Linked DNA regions of Homo sapiens: region 2 is linked to region 1. Evidence: fine-mapped expression QTL. A gene starts in region 1. The other region holds a variant in brackets. All regions are shown on one strand. Distances are between the middles of the regions. Region 1 holds the start of GGT7 (gamma-glutamyltransferase 7). Region 2 overlaps ACSS2 (acyl-CoA synthetase short chain family member 2).

Evidence for each region.
Region 2: its variant is fine-mapped to the expression of GGT7 in whole blood (INTERVAL, PIP 0.99).

What each region holds. Positions count from the first base shown.
Region 1 is chr20:34,860,933-34,877,389 of GRCh38, forward strand. It overlaps GGT7 (gamma-glutamyltransferase 7), which reads right to left and starts at 11,924. Exons shown (of 15, transcript NM_178026.3): 1 at 11,715-11,924; 2 at 2,381-2,616; 3 at 1,882-2,033; 4 at 513-630. The coding sequence starts at 11,883. It overlaps ACSS2 (acyl-CoA synthetase short chain family member 2), which reads left to right and starts at 15,680. Exons shown (of 18, transcript NM_018677.4): 1 at 15,680-15,891. The coding sequence starts at 15,714. RefSeq lists enhancers at 2,101-2,652, 14,899-14,978, 14,999-15,048 and silencers at 11,806-12,095, 15,319-15,458, 15,539-15,968.
Region 2 is chr20:34,884,234-34,900,690 of GRCh38, forward strand. The region is part of intron 2 of ACSS2 (acyl-CoA synthetase short chain family member 2); the gene reads left to right. Among named protein-coding and RNA genes, the nearest start is that of ACSS2, 16 kb to the left of the region's middle. The variant G/C (reference allele first, on the strand shown) is at 8,881.

The sequences.
Region 1 (16,457 bases):
GGACCTTCATTTAACCTATTCAGTTTCACCCCACCATTACTCTGAGCTCTGAAGACTCAGGGGTGTGTTTGGCTTTTGCCACCGCACTAAGTACCCATTTTTCCAAGTTATTCGATATCTTCTTTTTCTTTCAGCAGACAGTTGGTTTACTTCTGGCAATTCCCCTCTAATCTTCCAATATATCAAGGGCTGGGAAAGTTATAGTCAACTGGCTCAGAGTGAGATGTGTGAGTTTCATTGCATCAACTTCGTGACATTTCAGGGTACTCAGTAGCCTTTTTTCTTCCTTCCCACGTGCCAGATAGGTAAGATTCCCAGAGAAGTAAGGTTCCAGATTTTCTAGTTCATTATTTTATCTTGGGGGCTGCCTGACTCTCTCATAGCCTAAGAGAATCCTGCTCAACTCTTTTTCCCACTCCCCTGGTAAATACTTAGCAAATTAATGCTTGGGTTAGCAGAAGGGCAATGAAGAGAGACTCCCCTGAACTCTCTCTTCTCACCAGGGTCCCCACCTTGGTCTCCCAGGATCTTTGCAGGGTCTCTTCCCTGAGGGCCCCTGGTGCGGACTCCCGGAAATCAATTAGGTGGCTCTCATTTCGTCGGATGTCATGTACCAGCATCACGCCCCCACTGGGAGAGACACAGAAGGGGAAGTGTGATGATAACATGCTACCCCTCTGTACAATGAATCTGCTGCCCCTCCACCCCCAGTGGTGAGAGCTGTAGGCTCAGTTTTTCATTTGGGGTCAGGTGTCTGAGCTCCCTCCCCAGCATGGATTCACAGACTCAGCCACCCTAAGAGGATGGGAGCAAAACCAAGAGGGTTGGAGACCCAGGGTCCATGGACCTCTTCTATCCTGTCACTGGAGACTTTAATCCCTGATTAGGAAAAGCCCAGAGACTGGCAGAACAGGATGTTCTGCCCCATGCCCCCACCCTGGACCAGAGCTGGACCCCTGCCAGCTTCCTGCACCTGTCTACTTGGTATGTCCCTTGCCCCTCCCCCAGGACTGGATTATGTAAGGATAGAACATGCAAAACCAAAAGAGGAATTTCTTTGGTACGGCTTGGAGAGCTGGTCTTACAGGAGCCAAGATAGGAACTTTGTCAGCTTGTTCCTTTTCTGTAGCTTATTTACGTCTAAGATGGGGGCTGCAAACTTAAATGCCCACAGCCAAATGACAAACTAAGGCAAGCAGGACAGAGAAGAGGAAGTGGTAGAAACTACGGCAAACTGGACAGTGCATGCCCATCATGGGAAGCAGCTTCTATTCCACGCCAGGTAACTTCAGCCATGTGAGAATGCGGGCCCAAGTTGTTATCGGATTTCCCGATTGTTCAAGAGATGTTGGAAATCTGGATTTTTATGAAAATTCTCAACTTTTTAACAAAAGCAAACAAAATTTTAAGACAGTTCAGTGTCTAAACCAAACCAGTCTGTGTGCTGGGTGTTGCCCATGGGTGGCCAGCTTGTAACTTCTAAGAGTTCTTAGTGCAGGGTGTATTTTTGGAGGACAGAGGGTGCAAGGCTTTTCATCAGACCCATAGGGATTTATGATCCTAGAAGTTGAAATATCTCTGCCTTAATTGATGACAGTATACCTCCACCTGTGCATCTTAATTTATGGTTTACAAATTTCTTTTTCTAGTTAAAAAAAAAAAAAAAAAGCTTCTGAAAACACTTTCAGGTTTTCCATAAGGTAGCTTTGCTCTTCTGACTCCATCCAGGGAGAAGGGGGTGAAATTTGGTGTAGAAAGAGAAAATGCAAGGAGTTGGGGCCCAAAAGCCCCTCTCCCTAAGTTAGGAGTGCTGCACATGAGGCCTACAGACCTGGAGGCAAGAAGTAGGCCTGGGGGACCCCGACCTCCACTGCTCCTTACCCGCCCAGGCCAGAACTGTGTGGAGCCACGATACCCAAACACAAGGCTGCTGCCACCGCTGCGTCCACAGAAGATCCCTGTTTACTGAGCACCTCGATGCCCAGTGAAGTGCAGCGGGCAGCATCGGTCACCACGGCACCCTGCTGGAAGATCTGGGAGGGGAAAGAGGACTTGGTGGGGGCAGGAGGAGCTGTCCACCTCCCTAGGGCACCTCCACTAGCCCTAGAACTCTACGCGGCATGAAGGTCGAAGCCCTGCCCCCTTGTTGCCTTGACTCTGCCCTCATTACCCCAAGTGCCTCCTAATGGATCTGTCCTTATTCTTCCTTGTTCTGTCTCCCTCATGCCCTGGAGCTCCTCTCTTTGGGACCTTCCTCTCCCAAGTCACCACCCTCTCTCCCCTTCTACCACTCAGCCATTCCCCAGTTTCCACAGTTCCTCAAACATTACCCCACTCCCCACTCCCCAGTTTCCTCCCCCTCCCCATTTGTCCCCCTCACCTGGGGGTCCCCGAAGTAGATCTGCATGACCAGCGCCACGGTGACACCGGTAGCGAAGGTGAGACAGGCCGTGACGATGACCGTGAGCCCATCCTGGCGGCAGGAGCACTCGGCCGCTGCGGCGGAGAACGGGTCTTTGCGCGTCTCGCGTAGCGGCGACCCGTCTTGGCTGCCCATCTCCGACGACGACGATGGCAGCCGCTGCAGCCGTGCAGACTTCAGGAAGGAGTCCGGGTCTGCGGGCAGGCAGCCGGGGTCGGTCTGGGCATCTCCTATCTGGCCCTGCCCACCCTCCAGGTGGGACTATTCAGCGCTTTCCCTGCCCCGCCCCTGCCACACAATCCCCGCACTGGCTAGCACTACTCACCTTTCCTCATTTTCGCGTGCACCCCAGGACAGGCGGGGCAACGGTGCCCGGCTAGGAAGAGACAGGGACCTCCCCAGCTGGGCAGCAGGGAGGCTGGATTCCCGCCCCTCCCTGATACCTAGGCCAAATTTCCTGGCACCCAGGGCCCAGGGCTGAGAACACTTCCTGGGGGGTGGGGTGGGGGTTCCAGCCCTCAGTGGAAATCGGATCCTGCCCCAGTTGGGGCCCAGCCTTCCATGCAAGGAGGCAGCTACATAAACAGAGTGGAGGGACCCTGCCTTCCAACCTCACTTCAGTTATCAGCTCACTCATTCCTTAAATATGGAGAGCCCTATGCTAGGTGCCAGGGGACGGGAACAGATAGTTCCTGCCCTCATGTGGTTCATAGAGCCCTGGAAGAAAAAGCCAATAAGCAAAGGAGTCTATAATTACAAGTTGTGGCAGGTGCTATGAAGAAAAAGGAGGAAATGACAGAATAATGGTGGTAGGGGAGGGAGGATTCCTTAGCTGCAGAAATCAGGGAAGGCCTCTCAGGAAGTGACTTTTAAGCTGAAAACTAAGGGATGAGAAGGAGCCAGCTATAATGTAGAGCAAAGAGTATGTGTGTGGAATGTTCTGGAAAGAGGGAACAGTGGATGCAAAGGCCCTAAAGTGGGAATGAGCTTGGCACATTAGAAAAAAAAATAACCAAGGCCTGGGCGGCTCTGGTGTAGCAGGCATGGGGAAAGAGTAGTAAGGGTGGAAGCTAGGCCAGATACATACTGAGCGCAGTGGCTCAATCTTGTAATCCCAGCACTCTGGGGGGCCGAGGCGGGTGGATCACTTGAGGTCAGGAGTTTGAGACCAGCCTGGCCAACATGGTGAAACCCCGGCTCCACTAAAAATACAAAAATTAGCTGGGCATGGTGATGTGTGCCTCTAATTCCAGCTACTTGGGAGGCTGAGGCATGACAGTCACTTGAACCCACAAGGTGGAGGTTGCAGTGAGCCGAGATCGCGCCACAGCACTCCAGCCTGGGTGACAGAGTGAGACTCTGTCTCAAAAGAAAAAAAAAAAAAAAGGAAGATATGTGGGGCTCTACTAGCCTGGGGAGAAGCTTGGGTTTTACCCTAAGGACTATGGGAGGTCACTACTCGAGAGGCTATTTTTGTTTGTTTTTGAGATGGAGTTTCGCTCTTGTTGCCCAGGCTGGAGTGCAATGGCACAATCCTGGCTCACTGCACCCTCCGCTTCCTGGGTTCAAGCGACTCTCTTGCCTCAGCCTCTCCAGTAGCTGTGATTACAGGCACATGCCACCATGCCTGAGTAATTTTGTATTTTTAGTAGAAACAGGGTTTCAGCATATTGGCCAGGCTGGTCTCGAACTCCTGACCCCAGGTGATCTACCTGCCTCAGCCTCCCAAAGTGCTGGGATTACAGGTGTGAGCCACCGCACCCAGCCCACTACTAGAGAGTTTTAAGCAAGAATGTGAAACCATCTGTTCTGTGTGTTATTGTTGTTGTTTGAGACAGGGTCTGGCTCTGTCACCCCAGCTGGAGTGCAGTGGCACCATCTCAGCTCACTGAAACCTCTGCCTCCCTGCAACCTCTGCCTCCCAGGCTCAAGCCATCCTCCCACCTCAGCTCAGCTTCCTGAGTAGTTGAGACTACAGGCATGCCCCACTACACCTGGCTAATTTTTGTATTTTTTGTAGAGATGGGATTTCGCCATGTTGCCCAGGCTGGTCTCAAACTCCTGACCTCAAGTGATCCACTCACCTCAGCCTCCCAAAGCGCTGGGATTACAGGCATGAGCCACTGCGCCCGGCCTGTTTTGTGTTTTAAAATGATCCCTCTGGCTACTGTCTGGAGACAAACTGGAGGACGATAAGAGTGGAGGTAGGAGAGAACTGAAAGCTCACTATTTGCTGGTGGCTATGGACAAGTCAGTCAAGTCATGCACCTCACCTTCCTCATTCTAGTAATGGAACTAATCCCTAACTGGTGGGATAGGGGTACAAGGATTCCATGAGGTGATGTGCACCCAGTGCACTGTAGGTACTCACTCCAAGTTATTTCTATTCCTTTTCCACCTTGACCAGGGCTGAGACCCTCTTCCATCCCATAGCTCCCTCCTCTGAGTGTTATTAGCTGTGAACCCAGGTCCCTAAATGGCCTAAAGGTCCTAGGTGTTTGTGAACAGTAAAGAAATAGTCTTTACTTTACCTTGACCTCATGCTGTACTCACAATATGTTTTTTAAAGTTTATTCATTCAATTTTTTTAGTACCTGCTACTATGCACTAGGACTATAACCCCTTTAAAAGTCTATGTGATAATATTAAAAACTGACCATTTTATTGTTCTGTTTAAAATACGTGGTTCACTGATGCCAACATAATAAACATCTAAGCTCCTTGTGGTGTTTAAAGACCTTCATGATCCACAGTCCCATCTTTTGTGTAAATAAGAAACCAAATATATAGATAAAATGATGATATATGCAAGAAATGTTTATAAATTATTACAGAAGTTACTCTTGGGAAAGGATACTGAAGATGGGAATGAGATGGGGTGGGAGTTTTTTTGGTTTGAAATTTTTACCACTTATATCTATTTCCTTTTTAGAAATCAATACATAAACCGGGAGTGCTCGTGCATGCCTGTAAGCCCAGCTATTCAGAAGGCTGAGGCAGGAGATCACTTGAGTCTAGAAGTTCAAAGCTGCAGTATGATTGCAATATGAATAGCCACTGCACTCCAGGCTGGGCAACATAGATAGACCCTGTCTCTAAAAAAAATTAACACATATATTTTGAAATGAAAAGGAAAAATTACAGGGAGATAGGAATGGGAAAGGGGACTTTTTTATTCTTCCTCACTATTGCTTTTTTTTTTTTTATCATGAACATGTAATTTTTGTTTTTGTTTTTGTTTTTGAGACAGAGTCTCACTCTGTCGCCCAGGCTGGAGTGCAGTGGCGCAATCTCGGCTCACTGCAACCTCCATCTCCCAGGTTCAAGTGATTCTCCTGCCTCAGTCTCCTGAGTAGCTGGGATTACAGGCACATGCCACCACGCCTAGCTAATTTTTTATATTTTTAGTAGAGGCAGGGTCTCACCATGTTGGCCAGTCTGGTCTTGAACTCCTGACCTCAGGTGATCTGCCTGCCTCAGCCTCCCAAAGTGTTGGGATTACAGGCATAAGCCACCGCACCCTGCTGTTTTTAAACTTTATTTTCAAAAAAAGGTTATCTTCTGAGACTCTCCCTCACTTCATAATGCTTGCCTCTAACCCTCAACATCAGCATCACAGAGTCTGTAAATAAAACTGGAATTCATCCAAACAAACAGACGTTAAACACCCACTGTAGGCACAGAACTCTCCTTGGCCCCTAGAAATGTCTTGTTGTTGTTGTTGTTGTTGTTGCTGTTGCTGTTGTTGTTAATAGAGACAAGGTCTTGCTATGTTCCCCAGGCTGTTCTCAAACTCCTGAGCTCAAACAATCATCCCGCCTCAGCCTCCCAAAGTGTTGGGATTACAGGCGTGAGCCACAGCACCCGGCATTAGAAGTTTCAAAAGAAGTGTGGGAAAGGGTTTTGAACTTATATTTATTGATGCTGACTACATATTAAGCATTTTACATATATTCCTTTATTGAAGTGTTCCCAAGACTTTATGAAATAAGTCCCACTCTCGCCACTTTACAGATGAGAAAACTAAGACCAAGAAAGGTGATATTGCCCATCTCAGGTCATAAAATGAGTAAGTGGGCCAGGTTTGGTGGCTCACGTCTGTAATCTCAGCACTTTGGGAGGCCGAGGTGGGAGGATTGTTTGAGCCCAGGTATTCAAGACCAGCCTGGGCAACATAGCAAGACTCCTGTCTCTACAAAAAAATTTTTTTAATTAGCCAGGAATGGTGGTGTGCACCTGTTGTCCCAACTACTCGAAAGGCTGAGGTAAGAGCATCACTTCAGCCTGGTAGTTCGAGGCTGCAGTGAGCCACTGCCCACCAGCCTGGGCGACAGGGTGAAACCCTATCTCAAAAAATTTAAAGTAAAATATAAAATAAAATAAAATGAATAAGTGGCAGGACCAAGAGTCTGTGTAACTAGAAAGCCTCCTTCCCATTGCTCCACATGGCATCAAGAGCCATTTCTACCCTCAGAAACCAACCTTACAAGCTAATTTTTGTTGCTATTTCTTGGTACTTATTGCTTTGTTTTTGAGAGATAATCTTCCTGCCAGGCTGGAATGCAGTGGCGCAATCTCGGCTCACTGCAACCTCCGCCTTTGGGTTCAAGCATTTCTCATGCCTCAGCCTCCCAAGAAGCTGGAATTATAGGCATGCACCACCATGCCCAGCTAATTTTTGTATTTTTAGTAGAGATGGGGCTTCACCATGTTGGCCATGAGGCTGGTCTCAAACTCCTGGCCTCAAGCAATCCGCCCGCCTTGGCCTCCCAAAGTGTTGGCATTACAGGCGTGAGCCACTGTGCCCGGCCCTAGGTATGGTTTAATTTGTTTTCTCCAGTCAGATATAAGGATCCAGGAGGTAAAGGTGACATGTCCCTATCATAGCTATTCAAGACTCTCTACTCCACCAGTCCATCATAAAGTTATTGATTTATACAATAAAAATATTTACTGAGTACCTACTATGTGCACTGTGGAACAGCTAGGGCAATAACAGTGTTGATTTTACTGATAGGGAAGAGCAACAGCAGGATACTGGAAAAAGATTAATTTGCAACCAGAAGGAATAAGTCTTTTGGGAGAAAGATGACAAGTTCAATTTTGGTTATTATAAATTTGTGGGACACCATAAGAAGCTGTCTGGAGGCAGTTGGCCTAGTAGATATCTAATTTTTACCTTCAGGGCTCATCCCTGGTATCTGCTTGGATACCACTTCTCATTCAATTTTCTTTTAAGGAACATTCTCTCTCCTCTCTCAGCCAACTCCCTCATCCCTGACCAAAGTATATAACTCAGACTTGGCCAGTCAGAACAGGTACCTCTGTGCAGTAACAGGCAATGTGAACAAAGCCAGGCCAATAAGACCCAAACTTTGTTATTTTGCTGGAACTACTGGGAAAGAGAAAGGCTCCTCTTTCTATTACACTTAAGTTGCTAAGTTGGTAGGATGTAAGCCTGTAGCTGCTGGGGGCATCTTGCCCCTAATAAAATGGGAGGCCTTCTGCCAATGAAGCCCACCAAAAGAAGGCAGAGCAAAAGATGGAGAAAAGTCCATTCCTTTTTAGGTACCTTAATCCAGCTATGCCTGAAACCCCATATCCCTGGACTTTTCAGTTATGCTACCCAGTAAAATTCTCTTTTTGGATGTAGCTCAGTTAAACTGGGTTTATAACAAAATAATCCTGAACAAAATTGATTATACAAGTCCAGAGTTTAGGAGAGTGATCTTGGCTAGAGGCTAGGGTCATCCCTGGCTTGTTGTTTATTCCCTTAAGGGGAGAATCACTAAAATAAATAAATAAATAAATATATATATATATAAAATTTTGAAACAGTGTCTCACTCTGTTGCCCAGGCTGGAGTACAGTGGTATAATCTCAGCTCACTGCAGCCTCAACCTTCAGGGCTCAAGCCATCTGCCCACCTCAGCCTCCCGAGTAGCTGGGACTACAGACAGGCATGCACCACCACACCTGGCTAATTTTTGTATTTTTTCTAGAGACAGGGTTTCACCATGTTGCCCCGGCTGGTTCTGAATTCCTGAGCTCAAGCAATCTGCCCACCTTAGCCTCCCAAAATGCTGGGATTACAGGTGTATGCCACTATGCCCGGCAGAATCACCAAAGATGTCTGAACCAGGGAGTGACATGACCAGAAGCGATGGATGGATTGGGGTGGGGACTGGGCAAGAGGGAGGAGGCAGGAGGAGTAGCTAGAAGCCTATAAATAATATTGATAAGAGAGGTTGGTGGCTTAGTCTACAGTGGTGATGACAGGGATGATGAGTAGGAATTTGGAAGATACTTAGGAGGGGTGCAGAGAGCACTTGATCACCATTTGGAAATGAGAAGAAAAGGAGGAGTCCAGCATGCCATTCATTATTGGGAGACTGGGTGACTGGCAGTGTCATTAATGGAGAATGGCAGTGGAGGAAGAGCAGGTGCATGGGGAAGGGATATGATGAGTTCAAAATAGAACATGCTATAGATGAGGCACTTGCAGGACATCTGGAGACACAGGCCTGGGAGAGAAAGGAACACAAGGGCTTGGAGCTCAGAAGAAAGAAAGTATTTCCCAACCTTGGAATGATCACTGTCTAGCTCTCTTTCCCACAGAGCCTGATGTGGGGTGCCTGGCACTTGGGTTTAGGGAATGGCAGGCTAGAGGCTAGCTGGGCACAACCAAGGTCCTGGCTAAGAGGATGGTGCTGTGCCACTAGATGGTACCACCAGGTTGAGAACACAGGAGGCCATGTCAGCCTGTAGTCTGGTCCAGGTGAACCGAGGAAGCCTTGGGGCTTGGAAGTAGGATTGGGAGATATGGCATTCAAATGATTACACTGAAATGATGGCAACACACAAACCTGACACATAAATTTGGCATAAGGTATAAACTCCCAGAAGCTCAGATGACTAGGATCTCTGCTGGATTTCCATACAGGGGTGAGGGCAGAGCCTGTATTGAACTTCCCAAAATACTCCCTGAGGTTTTGGAACTTGCTCTCTCCTACCATTCTTTCATCCTCTCTCCTACCATTCTTTCATCCTGAGATCTTCTCTCTCATGCATTTATTCATTCAACAATTATTGAGTGCCCAATAAATAAATAGAGATGAGGGTTTTTTTTGTTGTTGTTGTTTGTTTGTTTTTTTGAGACAGAGTCTCACTCTGTTGCCCAGGCTGGAGTGCAATGGCGCGATCTTCGCTCACTGCAACCTCTGCCTCAGCCTCCTGAGTAGCTGGGGTTACAGACACCTGCCACCAGGCCTGGCTAATTTTTTTTTTTTGTATTTTTAGTAGAGATGGGGTTTTGTCATGTTGGCCAGGCTGTTTTTGAACTCCTGACCTCAGGTGATCCACCCGCCTCAGCATCCCAAAGTGCTGGGATTACAGGTGTGAGCCACCACACCGGCCAGTGTATTTTGTTTTGTTTTTTGTTTTTTGTTTCTTTTTGAGACTGAGTCTCACTCTGTCACCCAGGCTGGAGTGCAGTGGAGTGATCTCGGCTCACTGTAACCTCTGCCTCCCCAGTTCGAGTGATTCTCCTGCCTCAGCCTCCCGAGTAGCTAGGATTACAGGCACCCACCACCATGCCCAGCTAATTTTTGTATTTTTAGTAGAGATGGGGTTTCACCATGTTGGCCAGGCAGGTCTTGAACTCCTGACCTCAAGTGATCCACCCACCTCAGGCATGAGCCACCGCGCCCGGCCTATGGATAAGGTCTTGATGCTGGAGAAAGGAGAGTGAACAAAACAATCATGATCCCTGCCCTCATGGGGCTTACAGACAGGGAGTAATCAGATAATTGCACAAATAAATAATCATAGATTTTGGTAAATGCTAAGACATTTACAGAGGGCCAGAAGAAAACATGTCAGGCAGTTCCAATCTCTAGGTCAAGAGAGACAGGCATTCTCTGTTGAGCTGGAAGAGGAAACTAAGGCCCAGGACAGGGTAGGTGTGCCTGTTGTCGCTTGGTGAGTCAGGGCTGTATTAGGACCAGAAGTCTCACTCCTGACTACTGAATAAAAGGCCTAGCTTCAGGCTGATATCCATCATGACACATCTTCCCACTCCTCTCCCTGCTACCTCCTGATTCCACTCCCTTTGGAAAATAAGTTTTGATCCGCAGCCCTGACATTTGACGCCCATAAACCTCTAAACTCCATCTTCATTATCTCCTCACCCCCACCCCATACAGAGTGCAGTCCAGTCAGGTTGGCAAGGGCTGCTGGTCAGGGCCAGATGACCAGAAAGTGTAGAGGAGGAGAGAATTTGGGGCTTTCAGGCTGGGAGCAGCTAGGGAAGGGCCAAGCCGGAAAAGCAGCATCTGCCAGGCTGGTAAGAGACAAGGCTCAAGTGCAGGCACTGCGAGGAAGCGAGAGTGAGGTAGAAGGATGCTCTAATGCCAGGAAGTGACGTGCAGGGACAGAGGGATGGGGGATGAAGGATGAAGAATGGAGGGGAGGATGAAGCTGGGCCACATGGCTAGGAGGAAGAGCAGCAGGGAAGGAATGCACAGAGAGCTCTTTGCCCCCAGGTCTCTTCCAATCCCTGTCTCCTCCTTCTCTTACCCCCACTTCTCACAATTCCAGCAGAGGGCTGAGGGGAACACAGTAAAATTCTGGAGACTGCTTCCTAGGGAGCAGAGTACCTTACTAATACCCCGGCCAGATCCATGGCTCAGGGAGGGGTGGGGTAATCCACAGGAGAGTGAAGGCGTTCTAGTCCCCAAGGACTTTTGAGAGGTCATGCAGTCCATGCCTCCGTCTCCCAACACCCAACAGAGGGGAATCATATTCTCTTTACCCCTCCCTAGACATGAAGAGATTCTCCGCTTCTCCCAGACCCTCTGCTTCTCACAATCCCTGGCTGTGGGGAACTTCTCTTAAGGCACAGATTGGATCCCTCTTGCTGCAGTCTCTGACTTGGTTTCTCCTATCCTGTCCTCTGTGGCTAGAGAAAGCCCTCTTCTGGGTGATCACAGCGGTTCCTTAGGATCTCCCCTTCAACATTCCTTCATCGTTAGTTGGTTCTTCCCAGAAGGTAAGCCCAATCCCTTCTACTGCAGTCCCTAGCATCCTCTCCGTTGTCGCATCCTACGCCTCCAAGGCAGAAATGCACCCCCTTCCTCACCAAATAATTAACAGAGACAAGGGAGAAGAAGGGAGAGATCCAAGAAGATGGGGATGAATTAAGGAGATGGAGCTGGAGGTGGATGCTTGACACAGAAGAAGGAAGACCGGGGACTTCCCAAGGCAGGGCAGGGACGGGGTCAGCGGGCCTCACCGGTGTCGGGGTCTCCCAGAAAGGCGTCCTCGTCCTTGCGGCCCCTCAGCGGGGCCGCGGGCGCCGGCTCGTCCTCGGGCAGCCGCGGGAAGCTGGTGATGCTCATGTAGTCCACTGGCGAGTAGGCGCCCAGGGCGCTCTCCTGGCTGGCCTCGTTCTCCGCCGCCATCCTCGCCCGCGCCCCCCAGCAGCGCAGCGCCTGCCGGAAGTGGCTGCGGCGGGGGAGTGGGAGGGCGGAGGGCGGGGCCTGATCTTCGCGACAGCCGGGAGGGGGCGCCTCTCCCAGCCCTCGGCCGTGTCCCGGTCTGACTCGCCCCCGTCTGCTCAGCGCTATCAGCCTGCAGCTGGCACACAGGTGCGTGTAGATGGACAGCCAGGAAGGCAGCGCAGGGTCGAGGGGAGAGCGCGGGGCAAGCGAGACTTCAGTGGCTCTGCACTTTACGCAGCTCAGGGACCAAACCCCTTCCTCCTTCCAGCCTGAATACAGCTAGTGTCCTCCTCAAATCCCAGGCTTCCTTTTCGGGCCCCAGACCCTTTCACTGACCGCAAATCCCTCTCGACCCCAGATCCTGTCTCTGACCCCAAACTCCTCGGACCCCAGACCCCTCCTTGAATTCCGAGATCCTCCTCCTCCGATTTTAGACTCCTCCTCCGACCTTAGACCTCTTTTTCGACTTCAGACTCTGTCTTCACCCCCAAACCCTTTTGAAAACCCCAGCCCATGCTTCATCTCCAGGCCTCTTTGACTGCAGACGCCTCTTTGGACAACAGATCCCTCCTCTGACCTCAGATCCCTTCCCGCACCCCGACACTTCTGACTCCTCTTTCAACCGCATTCTCAAACTTTAGTGTGTGTTAGGATCTTTGAAAGCGGATCCCCAGATTCCACTCCAGAGATCATGATTCAGTAGGCTGGGATGAGGTCCTTGGAACCTGAATATTTACCATCATTTTAAGAGTTTTTGATGTGGTTCTGGAAAGGACACTTTGAGAAAGAAGGAGTGGTGGTAGTGATGGTAGGGCAGGAGTGGGGCAAGGTGGGGAATAGGTCTCCATATTCTGGATGTCTGGGTTCTATTCTGCCACCGCTCAAACACTGTGTAATCTTGGGCAAGACAATTAGTCTCTCTATCAGTTTCCCCATCTGTGAAATGGAAAGAATAATAGTACCCATTTTAGAGGGTTGTCATGAGGATTAAGTAACAGAATGGAAAGCGATTAGTATAGGGCTTGGCACCTACTCAATAAATGGCATCATCATCATCATCATCATTGCCTTAATCTGGTAGATTCATTCCCTCCAAACTCATCCATCCTCTCTCCACTCCAAAATTCCAACCACACTACAGCTTGTACTACTTCTCCATATCCAAGGATGAGGGAGGTTCCTTCTTTTACGAGGTCTCTGTTCCAAACTTTCATTGTGAAGTCCACAGGAAGAGAGGGGGGCTGGTGAAGCCTCTATACACACATCCTTTCTCTTCCCAACCCCAGACCAGTCTCAGGGATGGCCTGAAGTGCTTGAAAAATCTACTATATACACAGCAGCTGCAGTAGCAACTATAGACAGGAGGGGGAAGCAGTGTGTCGGGAACAGCTCTGGGGTTTGGGTGTAGGACTTGGGAGAGAGGATAGGAAGGAGAGGGCTACTCAGAGCTGTGTGGTAAGAGTGCCCAGGGAGGGTAACAGTCTATCACCAAAAAGTGTACCCATTGTCTGTGCCTTTCCCCACCCCAGAGAGTTCTTATCTCCTCAGTGATGTTTGTAGGGTCTATTACACTACCCTGAGGTCTAATCCCTCTGGTGGGACCCTTCCCCACTTGATGAGGTCTGCACCTTCTCAGTGATGTCCACTCCCACAGTGTAGTTGGCAGCTCCTCACTGGAGTTTGAGTCCTCTGGTAGGGTCCACGTCTCCTTAGTAAAGTCTATATCCTCTGTATCTCTTAGGGGAAATCCATGTCTCCTCACTAGGGTAAGTGCCCTTCAAAGCCATTCATGTCCTATTAGCAGGGCCCAGGGCCCTTCAGTCAGATCTGAGAACCCCCAGCAACATCTGTGCTCCCTTAGTGGAGTCCATGTACTGTCAGTGAAGTGTGTGTCCCTTCGGTGCAGTGAATATCTCCTTTATGAAAGTATCTGACCCCTTGGTGGGGTCTATGTCCACCCCAAGAGGTCTGTACTCCTTCAGTGGGCCCTCAGATTCCCGCCCTCCTTGGGATTGGGCAGACTCTCGGTCTCCCATAGAGAGATTTTTTTTCAGCTTAGGGTGTGCAAGGTTTACAGTCAGCTGGGCAAAGTGCAGGGAAGTAGCTGGGAAGGGAGGCTGGGCTAGATGGGGTCACAAGGCCTGTGTAGGCTTCAGGAGGTGGGAGCTGCCCGCTTCAGGCCTCAGAATCACTCTTGGAGTTAGATATTTAAGAATCCTTCCTGCCTTGACAGCCAGTCTGTGAAATGATGGTGAGGTGGGCACTTCTTTGTGGTGAGTGCAGGTGAGAGATGGAGGAGGGTCCTGCCTGACTTCTTTCTGGGGTGGAGGGGCTAGAGAGAAGCTAGAGGTAATTAAGCCCAGGTTGTGGTGGTGGTGGTGGGGGTTTCCCTTGGTGGAGTAAAGAGATTGTGAAGGAAAGAAGAGAATGTGGGCCAGGTGTGGTGGCTCACGCCTGTAATCCTAGCACTTTGGGAGCCCAAGGCGGGCAGATCACCTGAGGTCAGGAGTTCAAGACCAGCCTGGACAACATGGTGAAATCCCATCTCTACTAAAAATACAAAAATTAGCTGGGTGTGGTGGTGTGCACCTGTAATTCCAGCTACTCGGGAGGCTGAGGCAGGAGAATTGCTTGAATCCAGGAGGCAGAGGTTGCAGTCAGCCGAGATTGTGCCATTGCACTCCAGCCTGGGCGACAGAGCGAGAGACTCCATCTCAAAACAAAAACAACAACAAAAAAAGAGAATGTGAATGATTTTTCCTATTTGCACAGACTTTGATATTTTACAAGCCTTAGCTTCAAGCCTGACGAGGAAGTAAAACCAAATCTGGAGTCAAAGAACCTAGCTTTGGCCCTAACTTGGTCGTTATTTGCTCTCTGACTGTGCACCAGTTCCTTCCCTTTCCTGGGTTTGCCATTTGTGCAATTAGGAGGTGGGCTTATTACAAAAAACCTGAAGGTGTCTCCTAGTCTTCACTTATTGAGTCTTGTACTTTAGATCTGGATGGAGATTTGTGAAGGCAAGGAGATTGAAGACATGTCCTCATAAGAGGGAGAAAATCTGAGCTGGTTCCAGGGTGAGCAGAGAGGAGGTGCTGTCGCCAGAGCATGCCCTCAAGGTCATGGGAGAAGTTTTTCCGGAGGACGAGAATGTGGGTGTGGCTCAGAGAGGGGGGACCTGGAGGGAAGGGTGTCACCTGGAAGGAACTGGTGATAGTCAGGACTGTGCAATCAGATCACGGGGCGGCTCCGCGATGGACCTTACTCAACTCCTCTCCTTAGTCCATCCCTTTCCCTTTCGATCCTTGCCTTAACCCAACCCCTTATCTGTCACTCCAAGACCCCACCCCACTCTGGTCACTCCATGGCTCTGCCTCCTCTCCTGTCACAACCAGCCGGGTTACTCCCCATCACTCCATGGGCCCACCTCCTCTCCTGTCCCGCCTGGCCCCGCCCCTCCCTTGGCACTCCACGGTTCCACCCTCTCCCTTGTCACACCCGGCCCCGCCCCTTCTGCTTTCACTCGACGGCGTCACTCCTTCCGGCAAGTCAGCTCCACCCCTATCCCTCGACTTTTCCTTATAGTATTTCTGTCCTTGCCAACCTCGATCCCTCCCCAACCAGACACGGCCCCGCCCCCTCTGGCACCGCCCACCCGCCAGACTAAGCCACTCCCCCACTCACCAGGCCCCGCCCCTCTACGGAGGCCCCGCCTCTAGTTCGGCCTGTTTTCTCAGTCCCGGCACCCGCCGCGACCGCAAAGGCGGCCGCGGTTCTAGGAACTTGACGTGATGGGGCTTCCTGAGGAGCGGGTCCGGAGCGGCAGCGGGAGCCGGGGCCAGGAGGAAGCTGGAGCCGGAGGCCGGGCGCGGAGTTGGTCTCCGCCGCCCGAGGTCAGCCGCTCCGCGCACGTCCCCTCGCTGCAGCGCTACCGCGAGCTGCACCGGCGCTCCGTGGAGGAGCCGCGGGGTGAGGCCCGGCCCGGGCGGGCCTGGGGTGTCAGTGAGGAGAAGAGTGGGGGCTCCCTGGGGGAGTCGGGGGCTCCCTTGGGAAGCTGAGGGGTGGGTGAGGAGATGGAGGTTCTGTGAAGGAAGAATTGCGGTTCTTTGAAAATGGAAAAGGGATTCCGGGAGGAGACGAGGGTTCCATGGGAGCTGGGGAGTTCCCTGCAGACTTGGAGGGTCCGTGGTGGAGATGCGGGTTTTTGCGAGGAGACGCGGGATTCCGTGAGGGAAGAAGTGAGGTTCCTTGAGATTGGGACGGGGAGGTCGGCCAAGAGAGTGAAAGTTTCATGGGAAGAGAAGGGGAGTTCCTGAGGCGAAAAGAGGGTCTCTAAGGGGCGACGGGAGCCTTGAAGGGAGGAGGGCCACGAATAGAACTTTCTTTGCTTCCCTTTCACACCAGCTCAGCCACTGCCTCCTGAGACCCTTAACCTGTGAACTGTTGAGGGCAATAACGGGTCTGGTTCCCATCTTGGGGTCCTCAGATTAGTAATGGAGTCCCCGATCTATTTTTAGTATATCGGACATCCTAAT
Region 2 (16,457 bases), 23 kb after region 1:
AGTGTGAGCCACCATGTCTGGCCTGATTAATTATTTAAGCTAGCCAATAGGAGCAGCTTGGATGCTTCATGGGAGAGTTAAATTGAAACTCACTCAATATCTTTGCCCAGTTTGTGTGATATATTGAGAAGAGCCTTAACCTGAGAGACAAGAAATTTAGGTTCTCCTTTCAACTCTGCCATTAACATGTTATATAACCACAGACAAGGCATTTAACTAAGAGTCAGTTTCCTCTTCCATAAAATGGGGATAATAATTCTATCCTTGTTTTTCTCTCTAGATTGTTGTAAGAATCAAATGAGATAACGTTGTAAAAGCACTTATTTGTTTATTGGAAAACACTGTATAGGTGTGAGTGGTCTATTATTATACTACCATTGCTTAGTTGGGGGCCAGTTTGTCACTGAAATTCACTGTCCATTGTGTCTGTTGAGACTCTCTTTAGCTTCTGCTCTAGAGCTTTATGCTTGAGCTCCAGCCAACACTTGGGCTCATTTCCCAGGCTCTTTAAAGATCAGAAAACCTTTAAAGATCTTCAAAGGAGGCCGGGCATGGTGGCTCATGCCTGTAATCCCAGCACTTTGGGAGGCTGAGGCAAGAGGGTTGCTTGAGCTTAGGAGTTTGAGACCAGCCTGGGCAACACAGTGAGACCCCCATCTCTATTTCACAAAAAAGAAAGAAATAGGCTGGGCATGGTGCCTCATGCCTGTAATCCCAGCACTTTGGGAGACCAAGGCAGGTGGATTGCTTGAGCTCAAGAGTTCGAGACCAGCCTGGGCAACATGGCAAAACTCCCTCTCTACATAAAAGACAAAAATTAGCTGGGCATGGTGGTGCACGCCTGTAGTCCCACCTACTTGAAAGGCTGTGGTGGGAGGATTGCTTGAGCCCAGGAGGCGGAGGTTGCAGTGAGCACAGATCACACCACTGTACTCCAGCCTGGGCAACAGAGCAAGACCCTGTCTCAAAAAGTAATAGTAATAAAAATAAAATAAGAAAAATAAAAAGAGGAAAAAAAAGATCATAAAAGGAAATGCTTGTATCTGAATTTGTTCCCTGGTTTGAAAGAACTCAGGTGCCTAATGGAAAACAGAATACACAGGCCAGAGTTTTCAATCACTGGAGAGTTTTCCAGAATCCTGAGGCCCTTTCTTTCTAGAGACACCAGTTCCCCTACCACCCTTACCTGAACAGGCTCTGGAGAGCCTCTCTTTCCCCATCTGTAAAATGAGAGGAGTAGACTAGATCAGCATTTTCCAAAGAATGCTTCAGGAACTGCTAATTACTGGAGATATTAGTAGGGGGCTTCTTAATTCATAAAATGATTGAGTCTGAGAAACACTACATAATAAATTGCCTTTGTGTGAGATTCCCAATGTGTATTAGCATAGTAAAATCTCCAAGATGTCCTATATTAGAGATACCTGATTAATTTTGTTTAACATAGGATTTCCTGAATTTATTGAAGCCCCAAACACTTTTTGCCAGCATGCTATTGATATCACAAGAAGCAGTATTCCATGGAACACCCACTGGGGAAGCACTGGATTAAATAATCTCTAAATTTACTTCCAGTGCAAAATTCTGTAACTCAAAAACAAGACATCCTCACTCCATTTTTACATTGGTCACTCCCTCAACAAGAATTGTTAAAGATATTGGATACTCAGGGCTGCATTAGGCATTATGGATATGGGGGTAAAAAGGCAGGAGACAAGTACCATATAGGCAATTACTATTTAATTATTTTATGTTTATAGTAAAGCAAAAGCAAAATACAAATAAATTGCATTTTATTATAAGAAAGTAAAGTGCAAATATGCCGGATATGTGGTTACATCCCTTTGTTGCCTCTATATTTTTAAATGATATGCTTATACTGCTATTTTTCATCATTTTTAAAGAAAGTATTGATTTCTTACTACGATAGATAAGAATTTAGTTCTTATATACCTCTCTAACTTCCTTCTCTCTTCTTCTCAATATAATTATAGCTGTTTTCTAGTTAATTTAAAATCAGTTTACATAAGAATAGCATACTGTGGTTATATTTCCTTTTATGTACGGATTTTTATTTACTCTGAAGTTAATAATTGCTTACTGGGCTGGGTGCAGTGGCTTATACCTGTAATCCCAACACTTTGGGAAGCAGAGGCGGGCAGATCACCTGAGGTCAGGAGTTCTAGACAAGCCTGGCCAAAATAGTGAAACCTCATCTCTACTAAAAATACAAAAAAAAAATTAGCTGGGCATGGTAGTGCACACCTGCAGTCCCAGCTACTTGGGAGGCTGAGGCAGAAGAATCGCGTGAACCTGGGAGGCAGAGGTTGCAGTGAGCCAAGATCACACCACTGCCCTCCAGCCTGGGTGACAGAGCAAGACTCTGTCTCAAAAAACAATAAAAGTAATAATAATAATTGCTTACCGTTTTTCTTTTTGTACTATTTAAGCCTTTATCATATATTTAATATTTTCCAATCTCACTATCATATGAAATCCTCCTTTTCCTCCCAAAGTTCTCCCTCTTGGAGCTCACTTCTTTCTGTTCTAATTCTTACTAATGCTTTTAAAAATGACATCTTTTCTGTGATTCGCTCCAATTGATATACTTCTTATAGAAACACATTATGGCTTTCTTCTTAACTTTATGTCATTTAGACAGCTATGGTGGCATTAACAAGCCACATTTGTAGCTAGTTTCTTGTTTTGGAACATACATTGTGTAGTCATTGAAATTATCCACAAAGGAAATGGTGCTCTTAGGAAAGTACTCCCATTATCCAAAATAGAACCATATTAAGGAATAATTTGGCCTTTTACTTTTGGCTTGACACATTGCAAATGTTCACGGAATAGTAGTATTTTTAGAACTTGAAGTGACCGTTAGAGTCCATCTAGGCCAACTCTCTTCAAAGATTGGTAGATTAAGGGACAAAGAAGCTAAGTGATTTGCCTAAGGGTCATACACCTGTTTGAAGACAGAACTGAGACTAATCTCCAGATACTCTCACTCCTAGTCAACTATTTTTTTTCACTCGTGACACTACCTCATTATTCTAGTAGTCCAGCACTTGGCTGTGACAGATAAAAAGAGAAATTAGCCACATTAGCCAAACTGATTTAAATTAACTTTAAAATACCAGATAAAATGTGTTATTAGGTTTAAATGTCCCAGACCCTAGTCTCATGGAATTTACATTCTATTTGGAAAGACCAAATAGATTGGCCGGGCACAATGGCTCATGCCTGTAATCCCAGCACTTTGGGAAGCCAAGGCAGGTGGATCACCTGAGGTCAGGAGTTCGAGACCAGCCTGGCCAACATGGTGAAACCCTGTCTCTACTAAAAAATACAAAAATCAGCTGGATGTGGTGGCAGGTGCCTGTAATTGCAGCTACTTGGGAGGCTGAGGCAGGAGAATGGCTTGAACCCAGGAGGCAGAGGTTGTAGTGAGCCGAGATCGTGCCATTGCACTCCACCCTGGGCGACAAGAGCGAAACTCCATCTCAAAAACAAAATAAAACAAAACAAATAGATCTACATAAAAACAGCCTGGGCCAGGCATAGTGGCTCACGCCTGTAATCCCAACACTTTGGGAGGCTGAGGCGGGCGGATCACCTTAGGTCAGGAGTTCAAGATCAGCCTGGCCAACAAGACGAAACCCCATCTCTACTAAAAATACAAAAATAGCCAGGTGTGGTGGCGCACTCCTGTAATCCCAGCTACTTGGGAGGCTGAGACAGGAGAATTGCTTGAACCCAGGAGACAGAGGTTGCAGTGAGCCGAGATCAAGCCAATGTACTCCAGCCTGGGCAACAGAGCAAGACTCCATCAAAAAAAAAAAAAAAAAAAAAAGCCTGAAAAGAATTATGGGCCAAACTGCAAAGAGCTACTTACACAAATAGTTCACAGAAAGGAAAAAGCCTTATAGGGAGGCAGGATAATATAAAGATTAGGAGAATGGGTGTTTTGGTGTCAGACTAACCCAGTTTGAGTCCTATTTTTGCCACTAATTAGCTGTCTGATCTTGGGCAAGTTACTTAACCTCTTTGAGCCTCAGTTTTCTCAACTGTTAAACGTGGATAAAAATAGCTTTTATCTCATGGAGTTGTCAGTTTTGTAAGATTGAATAGGATAAAAAAAAACATGTCAAATTCCTGGCACATTGAATGCACTTAAATATTAGCCACCACAATTATTTATATTGGAACAGTGAGAAGACCAAGCATGTTTAGAGTAAAAGGTTTATGCAGGGAACAATTTATTCATTCAATAAATGCTTACTAAGAACTTATTAAGTGCCAGGCACTATTCTAAACAAAGTTCTTGCCCTCATGGAGGTTATAGTCCAGCTTGAGGAGACAGACAATAAACATAGAAACCAGTAAGTATATGACAGGTAGTGATGAGTACTATAGAAAAATATAGAGCAGAGTCAGGGGAAAGGGAAGTGACAGTGCAGAGTGGGAGCTGATAAGGAAAGAACCTTTTGATAAATATGACATTTGAGCAGAGATCTGAAGGAAAGTATGGAGTGTGCCACGCAGATAGTTGGGGTAGGGAGGGGAAATGTTCCAGGTAGGTGGAGAACAAATGTGCTGCTGCCTGGTGTGTTTGAAGACTAGCTAGGAAGTTAGTGTAGCTAAAATGTGTGAGCTAGGGAAGAGAGAGTAGTATTGACACCAGCAGGATATTAGATCATGTCACATCTTGAAAGCCAATGTAGACTCTGGCCTTTTATTCATGGTAAAATGGGAAACCACTAGACAATCTTTTTTTTTTTTTTTTGAGACAGAGTCTCGCTCTGTTGCCCAGGCTGGAATGCAGTGGTACGATCTCGGCTCACTGCACCCGCCATCATGCCTGGCTAATTTTTATATTTTTGTATTTTATTTTATTTTTTTTTGAGATGGAGTCTCGCTCTGTTGCCCAGGCTGGAGTGCAGTGGCACAATCTTCGCTCACTGCAAGCTCTGCCTCCTGGGTTCACACCATTCTCCTGCCTCAGCTTCCCGAGCAGCTGGTACTACAGGCGCCCGCCACCATGCCCGGCTAATTTTTTGTATTTTTAGTAGAGATGGGGTTTCACCATTTTAGCCAGGATGGTCTCTATCTCTTGACCTCGTGATCCACTCTCCTCGGCCTCCCAAAGTGCTGGGATTACAGGCGTGTGCCACTGCGCCTGGCCAATTTTTGTATTTTTAGTAGAGACAGGTTTTCACCATGTTGGCCAGGCTGGTCTCAAACTCCTGACCTTGTGACCCGCCCGCCTCGGCCTCCCAAAGTGCTGGGATTACAGGTGTGAGCCACCATGCCCACCCACACCACTAGACAATCTTAAGCACAGACGTGATAATGATTTGGCTTCTATTTAGGCTCTATCTTTTATATTAAGAAGAGACTGTAGAAGGGGAAAAGTAGAAGCAGGGTAACCAATTAGGAGGCTATTGTAGAAATCCAGGTGATAGATTGTGGTGATTTAGACCATAGTAGTAGTCATGAAGATGGTTAGATGTGGTCAAATTCTGGATCTATTTTGAATGAAGAACCTATGGAATTTGCTGACTTGGATTGGGTCTGGGGAGTGAAAGAGGAGTTACGGTTGTCATCAACAGCGGATGAGGTCCAGGTATGGGAGATCTTGACTATTTTTGGAGATCTGTGAAAGGATTGCATGCAGCGGAAGTCGCAGCAGAGGTTAAGAGGATTCATCTGGATACATATGGAAATGGGAATGTGAAGCCAGAGAACTGAGAGTTTGTTATTCAGTCCTGAACTAGGATGCTGCTGGTGGGAATGGAATGGAACAATGACATTTTAGAGTGATTTGATAATTTTACAGTAATTTAATCTGTATAAAGGGCTTAGTGCTTGGCAGAAAGTGTATTAGCTATTTTTTTCATTATGGAAAGAAACCAGCACAGGTAACTAGGTGTGTAGATGGTGGAGAGACAGGGAGAAAGTGAAAGGAAAGAGTCAAGGATTCTCCTAGTCTATATAAACACTGCCTCTTTTGAAGGCACACGTTCATCTGCTCCAAGGGCTAAATTTTCCCTGCAAAATACAGACTTTGGTTCCAACTTTCTCATGCTGTCTTCCCCCTGGTGTGGCAGATAAATATGTTAGTGGGGGTGCATGTGTATATGTATGGGAAAATGATCAGTGACAAGGTATTGGGATAGTCATTCAGGGAGAGAGAGTCAGTGAGGGTGTTAGAGGTAGCTGAAGGAGTGGAAGGGAGTTAGCTAGTTGAAGGAACACTGGAGGACTGTCGGGGATTTGGGGGATTAAGTAAAAGGTTTATAAGGAGAGGGTGGAAAGAGTGGTTGATGGCTGATATTCTGATCATTTATACTAGCTACTCAGTCTCTACTTTTTCTAGAAGTCCCCAGTAACCAAAGCCCAACACATTTGGTATCGTTGATTCCTTCCATTGTTTGCTTTGCTTTGGGTTGCCTAAGGCTGTGGTTATCTCTGAGCCACCTAAATTCTCACCCTCAGCTGAAATCACTACTGTCTCTTCATGGCTCTCAGTATATTTCAATCCTTCTTCAGGAACTGGAGCTTTTGAGAATAAGGCAACTTTAGGATTGACCCTAGGACAGAAGCTCTGCTCTCAGGATCCTTGTATGCTCCTGAATATGAATTCCATAGTATGATATTTGGAGCTCCCCAGATCCTTGTAGGCATATGTGTGTGTGTGTATTTGAGGCCAAAAAAAAAAAAAAAAAGTCCCTACCTCCCCATGTCACTGAAGTGAACTCCAGAATATGGACCTAGATAATTTAGAGTCCCTGGACATGAATGATAGGACAATATACTCTAGGGCTCTGATTTTCCATATCACCTTGACAAATCTCCTTGACAAAACATGGGCTTGCCTCACCTTCTCAACCATCCCCACCTTCTCAAATACACACACTACATCTATATCTTTACTAGTTTCACAACAGCATATCTATTGATTAAGATATATTTGGTAAAGAAAAACACTCATTTTGAGAAAGATGACTTCAGACCATTCTCTTCCTCTCTCTGGGCCTTCTCTTTGTGGGCATGATGGGAAATGAACTACAGATACTCTGCAAGGTCCCTTTCATCTCTAATCTTCCAGAATTCTATGACTGTTTCTGAAGAGAGGAAGCAGTTTTTAGAAGTTCTGTTGCAACCTGTAGTGACTCTGTGGTGACTCAGTAGGCGGGTTGAATTTCTGTTGAGATGGTAAGAAAGAGGGAGGATTTTGTTTATTTATTTATTTATTTAATTTATTTTCTATAATGATGTTGACACCATAAAGCAAGAATTTTAGAAGGTTTGGAATGAAGGGGCTGAGGAAGGAGTCTGTTCCTCTTGCCTGAGGGTTGTTTGTGGCTGGTAGCATAAATACTCAAAGCTAATGGGAGATACATGGGAAATACCTGTTGTTGGGAACAGTCTTTCTCCACTTGAATGAGGTGAGCAGATTGTGGAGGTGAGCTGGAGGATTTCATGTTTAAGGTGGATTTCTAACCTGCTTCTCTCATTTCTCCCTGAGTTTTATGACCCTTGACACTTTACAGAACACCTCCCTAAAGTGGTGAAAATGAGACAAGTAGGCTGTACTTTCCGAGTCACTTTTTTTGGAAGTAGGTGGCATATGAATAATAAATGTATTGCTCTGAAGACTCTGTCTTGAGGCCTGTTTCAGTGTCCTGAGCTTCATATCAGCTACCTGAGTTTGTGTCTGGGCCAACTTCTTATACTGGCATGTTCAGTAAACATTTAATGAAAAGAATGGCTTTAGTTAATGCCCTTTTCTAAGCCTTCTTTTTCCCACTTATAAACTGTTAGGGATGTACAAGACTCTTTTTTAAGTTACTTCTGGCACTGACCTTCAGAATTTCTGTCACAAATGCAGGGAACTGCCTGGATAAATTCTCTACATTTCTGGGAGAAGTTAGGGGAGAGGAGGAACTGGCCTCCTCTCCTTTGAAGATACTAGGTGGTCAGATGGGAGCAGGGGTTCTTGCCTTATGGCAGCCCCACATTTATAACAATTAACTCAGAAGGCGTGGAGTTGAGGATGGGCCTTCCCCCACTTCCTGGATTTGGTTTGGGAGAGGTTGGGCACTGGTAATGATCCCCGGTGTCTCACATCTTGAACCTCTGAGAATTCAAGACTCTCAGTTTCAGTCCTTAGAGGTCATTTGGTCCAATTCCCACACAAATCAGGAATTGTAGTACCAATATCCCAATCCCTAACAATCCCCATAAGTTATCATTCTGATTCTGGGTCATTCTCATTCAATTCCTACATCTCTACCTTAATACTTACTAGTTGGGCAAGTTACCTCACCTCTTTAAACCTCAATTTTCATGTCTGTAAAATGGAAATAATAAGTCCTGTGACATAGATTGTTGTAAGGAAGAATTGGAATAATCTATATAAAGGGCTTAGTGCTTGGCAAAAAGTGTATTAGCTATTTTTATTATTATGCCAAAACCCTATACCTAAAACAGGTAACAGCGGTGCTGATCTGGTTGGAGCATGGATGGGAGGCCTAGAGCCACATTCTGTAGGCTTCTCCACCCTGTTACTGTGTTCCCTGTGAGGTGTGTGTCTGGAATCCCTAGGGATTTGCAAAGCTCAGTTTGAAAACCCCTGATCTAGTCCAGTGTTCTTGTTTTATAAATGAAGTGATACTGAGTCCACAGTCTCAGGTTCCTCATATGATGTGGCTTCCTAAACAACCATGTCGGTCTCCCCTGGATATACTTTAGTTGGCCAATATCTCTCATTAAGTATTCCAGCTATGGTCTGACTTGAACAGGGTACTATTACCATTCTTTCACTTTACATATCTAAGATTATATTAGCCTCATTGACAGCCACACTCTCCA[G/C]TCAGTTTATAATCTCTCATAATACTTAAGATTTTCCTTTTCTTTCTCTCTTTCTCTCTCCTTTTCCTTTTTCCTCTTTCTCCTTTCATTTCCTTCCCTTTCCTTCCCTTGTTTGTCTCACTCTGTTGCTCAGGCTGGAGTGCAGTGGTGCAGTTGTGGCCCACTGTAGCCTCAAACTCCAAGGTCCAAGTGATCCTCCCACCTCAGCCTCCTGAGTAGCTAGGAGCACAGTCATGCACCAACACAATCAGCGAATTTTATTTTTATTTTTATTTTGAGACAGAATTTTGCTCTTGTTGCCCAGGCTGGAGTGCAATGGTGTGATCTTGGCTCGCTGTAACCTCTGCCTCCTGGGTTCAAGCAATTCTCCTGCTTCAGCCTCCTGAGTAGCTGGGATTACAGGCACACACCACCATGCCCAGCTAATTTTTTTTTTTTTTTTTTTGTATTTTTAGTGGAGACGTGGTTTTGCCATGTTGGCCAGGCTGGTCTCAACTTCCTGACCTCAGGTGAGCTTCCTGCCTCAGCCTCCCAAAGTGCTGGGATCACAGACGTGAGCCGTTGTGCCTGGCCAGCTTGGAATTTTGAATTAGAGAAGGTACAAGAGAAGACTGCAAAATCTCAGATATAGGAGGGCCTTGGACTACCTATTATCTCTTTTTGGGATATAAAGTTTTTAGAACAGCCCTCTTCTAGGGTTCTAAGGTCTGGTCTACTTATGGTTTTACTATCATGGTTTATTATCATGGTTACCTTATGGTTTTACCATCTTGGAGCATCATTATTTTATTTAAATAAAATAAATACAACCCTGAAACTATTCACCCTGGAATACTTTACACACAGAGTTGCCCGTACAGAAAACATCTCTAGAGCATATGAACACCTGCATTTCTAAGTGTGATTTTTTTGACCAGAGACTAATTTTTGAAACCAACGTTTGCTTCTTTTTGACCATGATATTTTAATACATGAAAATCTATCCAAAGGAGCAGTCACAGAGGGTTCTTGTTGAACTTTAGTTTCTGAGCTGCTTTTGAGGATGGTTACTTGAGGTGTCCTCCAAACTGCCACATATAGTGAGTTAGAGAATCTGCCAGGCACAGTGGCTCATGCCTGTAATCCCAGAACTTTGGGAGACTGAGGAGGGAGGATCACTGAACTCAGGAGTTTGAGATCAGCCTGGGCAACACAGGTAGACCCCATCTCTATAAAAAATTTTAAAATTAGGCCAGGCGTGGTGGCTCACACCTGTAATCCCAGCTACTCGGGTGGCTGAGGCAGGAAAATCGATTGAACCTGGGAGGCAGAGGTTGAAGTGAGCCAAGATCATGCCACTGCACTCCGGCCTGGGTGACAGAGTGAGACTCTGTCTCAAAAAATAATAATAATAAATAAAAAATTAGCTGGGTATGGTCATGCATGCCTGTGGTCCCAGATATTTGGGAGGCTGAGGTGGGAGGATTTCTTGAGCCTGGGAGGTTGAGGCTGCAGTGAGCGGTGATCGTGCTACTGCACTCCAGCCTGGGTGAGACCCTGTCTCAAAAAAGAAGTTAGGGAGTCCTAATACAACATCTGGATTTGTTAAAAATCTGTCTAGTTGTTTTCATATGATGGGAAACAAACTGACAGAAATCTAATTTTATTTATATGGATAGCCATGCTGTACTTGCTAAGACCACAAGAATAGGCTCAGAGAGAGGGGAAAGTTTGTGTAAATTATACATTGAATTAGGGGTAAACAATCTAGTCTGATGACTCCATATTCAGAGCCAGGGTTTCCCAATTTTAGTTTATGTAAATAATTACCTGAGGATGTCGTTAGAAATCCAGATTTCTGGACCCTATCCCAGACTATTGAGTTAGAATCTCCAGAGGATAAGACCTCTGACTTGTATTTTTGTAACCTCCTCAGACAATTCTGATGTTGGGGGGAGGGACAAAGTACCATTGAAAAATTATTTAGATTAATAACCTTAAACTCTTAAAATTATATACCTAAAAGAATTTTGAAAAATTATGTAACTCTTGACATAATGTTCATATCTAAAAATTTTATCATAAGATTTAAAAATTGCAAAAAATCGAATTTCCAAAACATTTTACATATTATATACACACATATATATATATGCACATATAGGTTATACCTCTTTCAAAACATTGGCACTGCAAATTTAGCTCATATAATTTATAGAAGACATCTACCATACAACCTGTTTTGCATAGCCAGTTATCACCCAACATAATCAGCCAAATCAGATCTACTGTGTTAGAAATTGCCTAACTTCTTTCTTAAGATAAATATGTTAATATATGACTCTGTGATAACTGTTTCACTTCTGAGTTGTAATTCTAAGAGATATAAGGCAAGTAGTCTTGCCATGAGTTTGTTACGTGGATGAATTAAGATGCCAATTCTTTCAATACTGATTTCTCAGAGAAGCTCTCATTGATTTGCTTTCTTGGGGCTCTCCCTCAGAAGTTATACATTCTCAAATTGTCCCTTTGTTTAACACTTTGTTCATACCCTGTCATTGTACCATAATAAAGTTTGAGATAAGAGAGAGCTATGACATTCTTGTTTAACGTGGGAGAAGGGTAATTGTAAAAGAGAGTGAGAAAGAAGAACCAACTCAGACAGATCATTGTTAGGAAATATTACATATGGAAGTTGAGGATCTAGACATTTATTCTCTTCATATTTTTCTGTGCAGGTACTCACAGGAATAGAGTACCGTAGATTGAGGACTAATGATTTAAACTGCCTTTGACCTAGATAATAGAGAACCATTGTAATGAATATTTTTGCATGTGTCTATTATACTTGAGAGACTTGATGTACACATAAAATGATGCCCCTGGATTTTCTTTCCACTTTCTGTTTCTGCTCTAGGCATATTCCTCTTTTGGGCTGCATTCCAAATGCTCTGCCCTCATTCACTTGTTATAGGTAAGGCCAGCATGGGACACAGGATGGTAGGAACAAGTGTGTGATTCCCCTCCTGTAAGTAGGCATGTAGGCAGTGAGAAAAGAGAAGAGGTACACAATCCATCGGGCACCAAAGCCACTTTGGCCAAGGGGAACATGCAAAAGGTATTTGGATCAAGGCCTGAAAATAGCTGGCAAGAGGACAGGGTACAATAATAGCCCAGACTGCAGGGCAGGAGTCCCATACTCTGAACCTCAGCTCCAGGGTTCTCTTCCAGCCTCTTCACAGAGTCCCAGACTGAGCCCACTGTAGGATCTCAAGAAACACTTCTTGACATGATTCCAAAATCCATTCCACAAATTCCACTCTTGTCTTTCCTCTGCCTGTCCAGCATCTATCTTGTTTATCTGTATCCTATCTTATCCCCTCTCCTTCCATACTTTCTCTCTTTGATCATCTTGGATCCAGCTGGTCATATAAGCAGAGATAAGTTTGTTCATTTATTTATTCATTCTTTTATCTATTCATTTTACAATTATGTATTAAGTGCTCACTGTGTATTGGCCTTTGTGGTAAGCACTAAGGAGAAAACATATAAAAAGATATCCTGTCTGCCATTAAGGAACTCATAATCCAGTGAGGGAAACAGATGTCTACATAGGACTCTAGTGCTAGAAAAAAATAAGTGCCCAAGTGTTGTCTTTAGAAATAAACAGGCTGGGCGTGGTGGCTCACGCCTGCAATCCTAGCACTTTGGGAGGCCAAGGCGGGCGGATCACTTGAGGTCAAGAGCCTGGCCAACATGGTGAAACCCTGTCTCTACTAAAAATATAAAAATTAGCCTGTGGTGGCGGGGGCCTGTAGTCCCAGCTACTCGGGAGGCTGAGACATAAGAATTGCTTGAACCCGGGAGGCGGAGGTTGCAGTGAGCCGAGATAGCACCACTGCACTCCAGCCTGGGCAACAGAGCTAGACTGTCTCAAAAAAAGGAAAAAAAAAAATAGAAAGAGGCAAGAATGAATGAATGAATAGTGCTTAATCTTTCTAATGAATGAATAGTTACAACCTTTCTGGAAAGGAAGGTTTGTAAAGATGTCTGTATTTTCCAAATTAATCTGTACATTTATTGCAATTCCAATCAAAATTGCAATTATATTTTTTATTGAGATATAATTTATACCATATAATTCACCCATTTAAAGTATACAATTCATATTTTTAATATATTTGCAAAGGTGTACAACTTTCAATTTTAGAAAATTTTCATCACCCCCAAAAGAAGTGCAATACTCATTAGCAGTCATTTTTCATTTTCCCCCAACTTCTTCTCCTCCAGCTCTAGGCAACCACTAATCTACTTTCTGTCTCTAAGGCTCTGCCTTATTCTGGATGTTTCATATAAATGGAATCATATAACACGTGGCCCTTTGTGTCTGGTTTCTTTCACTAAGCATAATGTTTTCAAGGTTCATCCATGTTATAGGCCGGATGCAGTGGCTCATGTCTGTAATCCCAGCACTTTGGGAGGCTGAGGTGGGTGGATCACCTGAGGTTGGTGGATCACCTGAGCTTGGCAGTTTGAGACCAGCCTGGCCAACATGGTGAAACCCCATCTCTACTAAAAATATAAAAATTAGCCGGCCATGGTGGTGCATGCTTGTAATTCCAGGTACTTGGGAGGCTGAGGCAGGAGAATTGCTTGAACCCAGGAGACGGAGGTTGCAGTGAGCCAAGATCATGCCACCACACTCCAGCCTGGGCAACAAAGTGAGACTGTCTTAAAAAAAAAAAAGTTCATCCATGTTATACCATATATCAGTACTTCATCCTTTTACATTGCTGAATAATGTTGCATTGTATAACTGTATCACATTGTGTCCGGAATTGGTGGGTTCTTGGTCTCACTGACTTCAAGAATGAAGCCGTGGACCCTCACGGTGAGTGTTACAGCTCTTAAGGTGGCACGTCTGGAGTTTGTTCCTTCTGATGTTCGGATGTGTTCGGAGTTTCTTCCTTCTGGTGGGTTTGTGGTCTCGCTGGCTCAGGAGTGAACCTGCAGACCTTCACAGTGAGTGTTACAGCTCATAAAAGCAGTGTGGACCCAAAGAGTGAGCAGCAGCAAGATTTATTGCAAAGAGCAAAAGAACAAAGCTTCCACAGTGTGGAAGGGGACCTGAGCGGGTTACCACTGCTGGCTGGGGCAGCCTGCTTTTATTCTCTTATCTGGCCCCACCCACATCCTGCTGATTGGTAGAGCCAAGTGGTCTGTTTTGACAGGGTGCCGATTGGTGCGTTTACAATCCCTGAGCTAGACACAAAGGTTCTCCACATCTCCACCAGATTAGCTAGATACAGAGTGCCAACACAAAGGTTCTCCAAGTCCCCACCAGAGTAGCTAGATACAGAGTGTCAATTGGTGCATTCACAAACCCTGAGCTAGACACAGGGTGCTGATTGGTGTGTTCACAAACCTTGAGCTAGATACAGAGTGCCGATTGGTGTATTTACAATCCCTGAGCTAGACATAAAGGTTCTCCAAGGCCCCACCAGAGTAGCTAGATACAGAGTGTCCATTGGTGCATTCACAAACCCTGAGCTAGACAGAGGGTGCAGATTGGTGTATTTACAATCCCTTAGCTAGACTTAGAGGTTCTCCACTTCCCCACCAGACTCAGGAGCCCAGCTGGCTTCACCCAGTGGATCCCGCACTGGGGCTGCAGGTGGAGCTGCCTGCCAGTCCTGCGCCGTGTGCCTGCACTCCTCAGCCCTTGGGTGGCCGATGGGACTGGGTGCCGTGAGCAGGGGGCGGTGCTCGTCGGGGGGGCTCGGGCCGCACAGGAGCCCACGGTGGGGGTGGGGGAGGCTCAGGCATGGCGGGCTGCAGGTCCCGAGCCCTGCCCCGCGGGAAGGCAGCTAAGGCCTGGCGAGAAATGGAGCGCAGTGCTGGTGGGCTGGCACTGCTGGGGTACCCAGTACACCCTCCGCAGCTGCTGGCCCGGGTGCTAAGCCCCTCATTGCCTGGGGCCGGCAGGGCCGGCCGGCTGCTCCGAGTGCGGGGCCTGCCAAGCCCACGCCCACTCGGAACTCCAGCTGGCCCGCAAGCTCCGTGCGCAGCCCCGGTTCCCGCTCGGGCCTCTCCCTCCGCACCTCCCTGCAAGCTGAGGGAGCCAGCTCCGGCCTTGGCCAGCCCAGAAAGGGGCTCCCACAGTGCAGCGGTGGGCTGAAGGGCTCCTCAAGTGCCGCCAAAGTGGGAGCCCAGGCAGAGGAGGCGCCGAGAGCGAGCAAGGGCTGTGAGGACTGCCAGCACGCTGTCACCTCTCAACGTTATCACATTTTTTTCTTTCTTTCTTTCTTTCCTTCTTTCTTTCTTTCTTTCTTTCCTTCCTTCCTTCCTTCCTTCCTTCCTTCCTTCCTTCCTTCCTTTCTTTTTCTTTCTTTTCTTTCTTTTTTGTTTTTTTTTGAGATGGAGTCTTGCTCTTGTCGCCCAGGCTGGAGTGCAATGGCATGATCTCGGCTCACTGCAACCTCCGCCTCCCGGGTTCAAGCGATTCTCCCACCTCAGCCTCCCGAGCAGCTGAGGTACAGGCACTGGCCACCACGCCCGGCTAATTTTTGTATTTTTAGTAGAGACGGGGTTTCACCATGTTGGCCAGGCTGGTCTTGAACACCTGACCTTGTGATCCACCCGCCCCAGCCTCCCAAAGTGCTGGGATTACAGGCATGAGTCACCACACCTGGCCCCACATTTTTCTTTATTCATTCCTCAATTGGTGGACATTTGGGTTGTTTACACTTTCTGATGTCATGAATAACGCTACTACAAACCTTTGGGTACATGTTTTTGTGTAGATGTATGTTTTCAATTCTCTTGGGTATATAGCTAGGAGTTTAATTGCTGAGTCATATGGTAAGTCTATATTTAACCTATTGAGGAACTGCCAGACTGTTTTCCAAAGTAGCTGAACCATTTTATATTCCCGGCAATGTATGAGGTTTCCAATTTCTGCACATGCTTGTCAGCACTTGTTACTGTCTGTTTGTTTGATTATGGCCATCTTAGTGAGTGTGAAGTGGGATCTGATTGTTATTTTGATTTGTATCTCCTTGACCATGCCTGACCTTTTTTTTTTTTTTTTTTTTTTGAGACTGAGTCTCGCTCTGTCGCCCAGGCTGGAGTGCAGTGGCACAATTTTGGCTGATTACGACCTCTGCCTCCCAGGTTCAAGAGATTCTCATGTGCAGCCTCCCAAGTAGCTGCGACTACAGGTGCGTGCCACCATGCCCGGCTAAATTTTTTTTTTTTTTTTTAGTAGAGATGGGGTTTGGCCATGTTGGCCAGGCTGGTGTCGAACTTCTGACCTCAGGTGATCCTCCCACCTTGGCCTCCCAAAATGTTGGGATTACAGGCATGTGCTACTGCACCTGGCCCATTAACTGCCTTTTGAAGACTGGCCGGTACAGTCCTGGCTCCCTCAATAGGTGAGGAATCAATGTTTAGGGAGAAATTTCATAAATAGTCCACTGATTGAGGCTATTTACTCTAGTTTCATCAGTTTTGAGTTGGTGAAAAGCCCGTCCAAATTTGGGTGATAGGATGACAGTTGATTCCAGTTTTTGAATCAGGAGCTGAGTGAGGCTGCATTA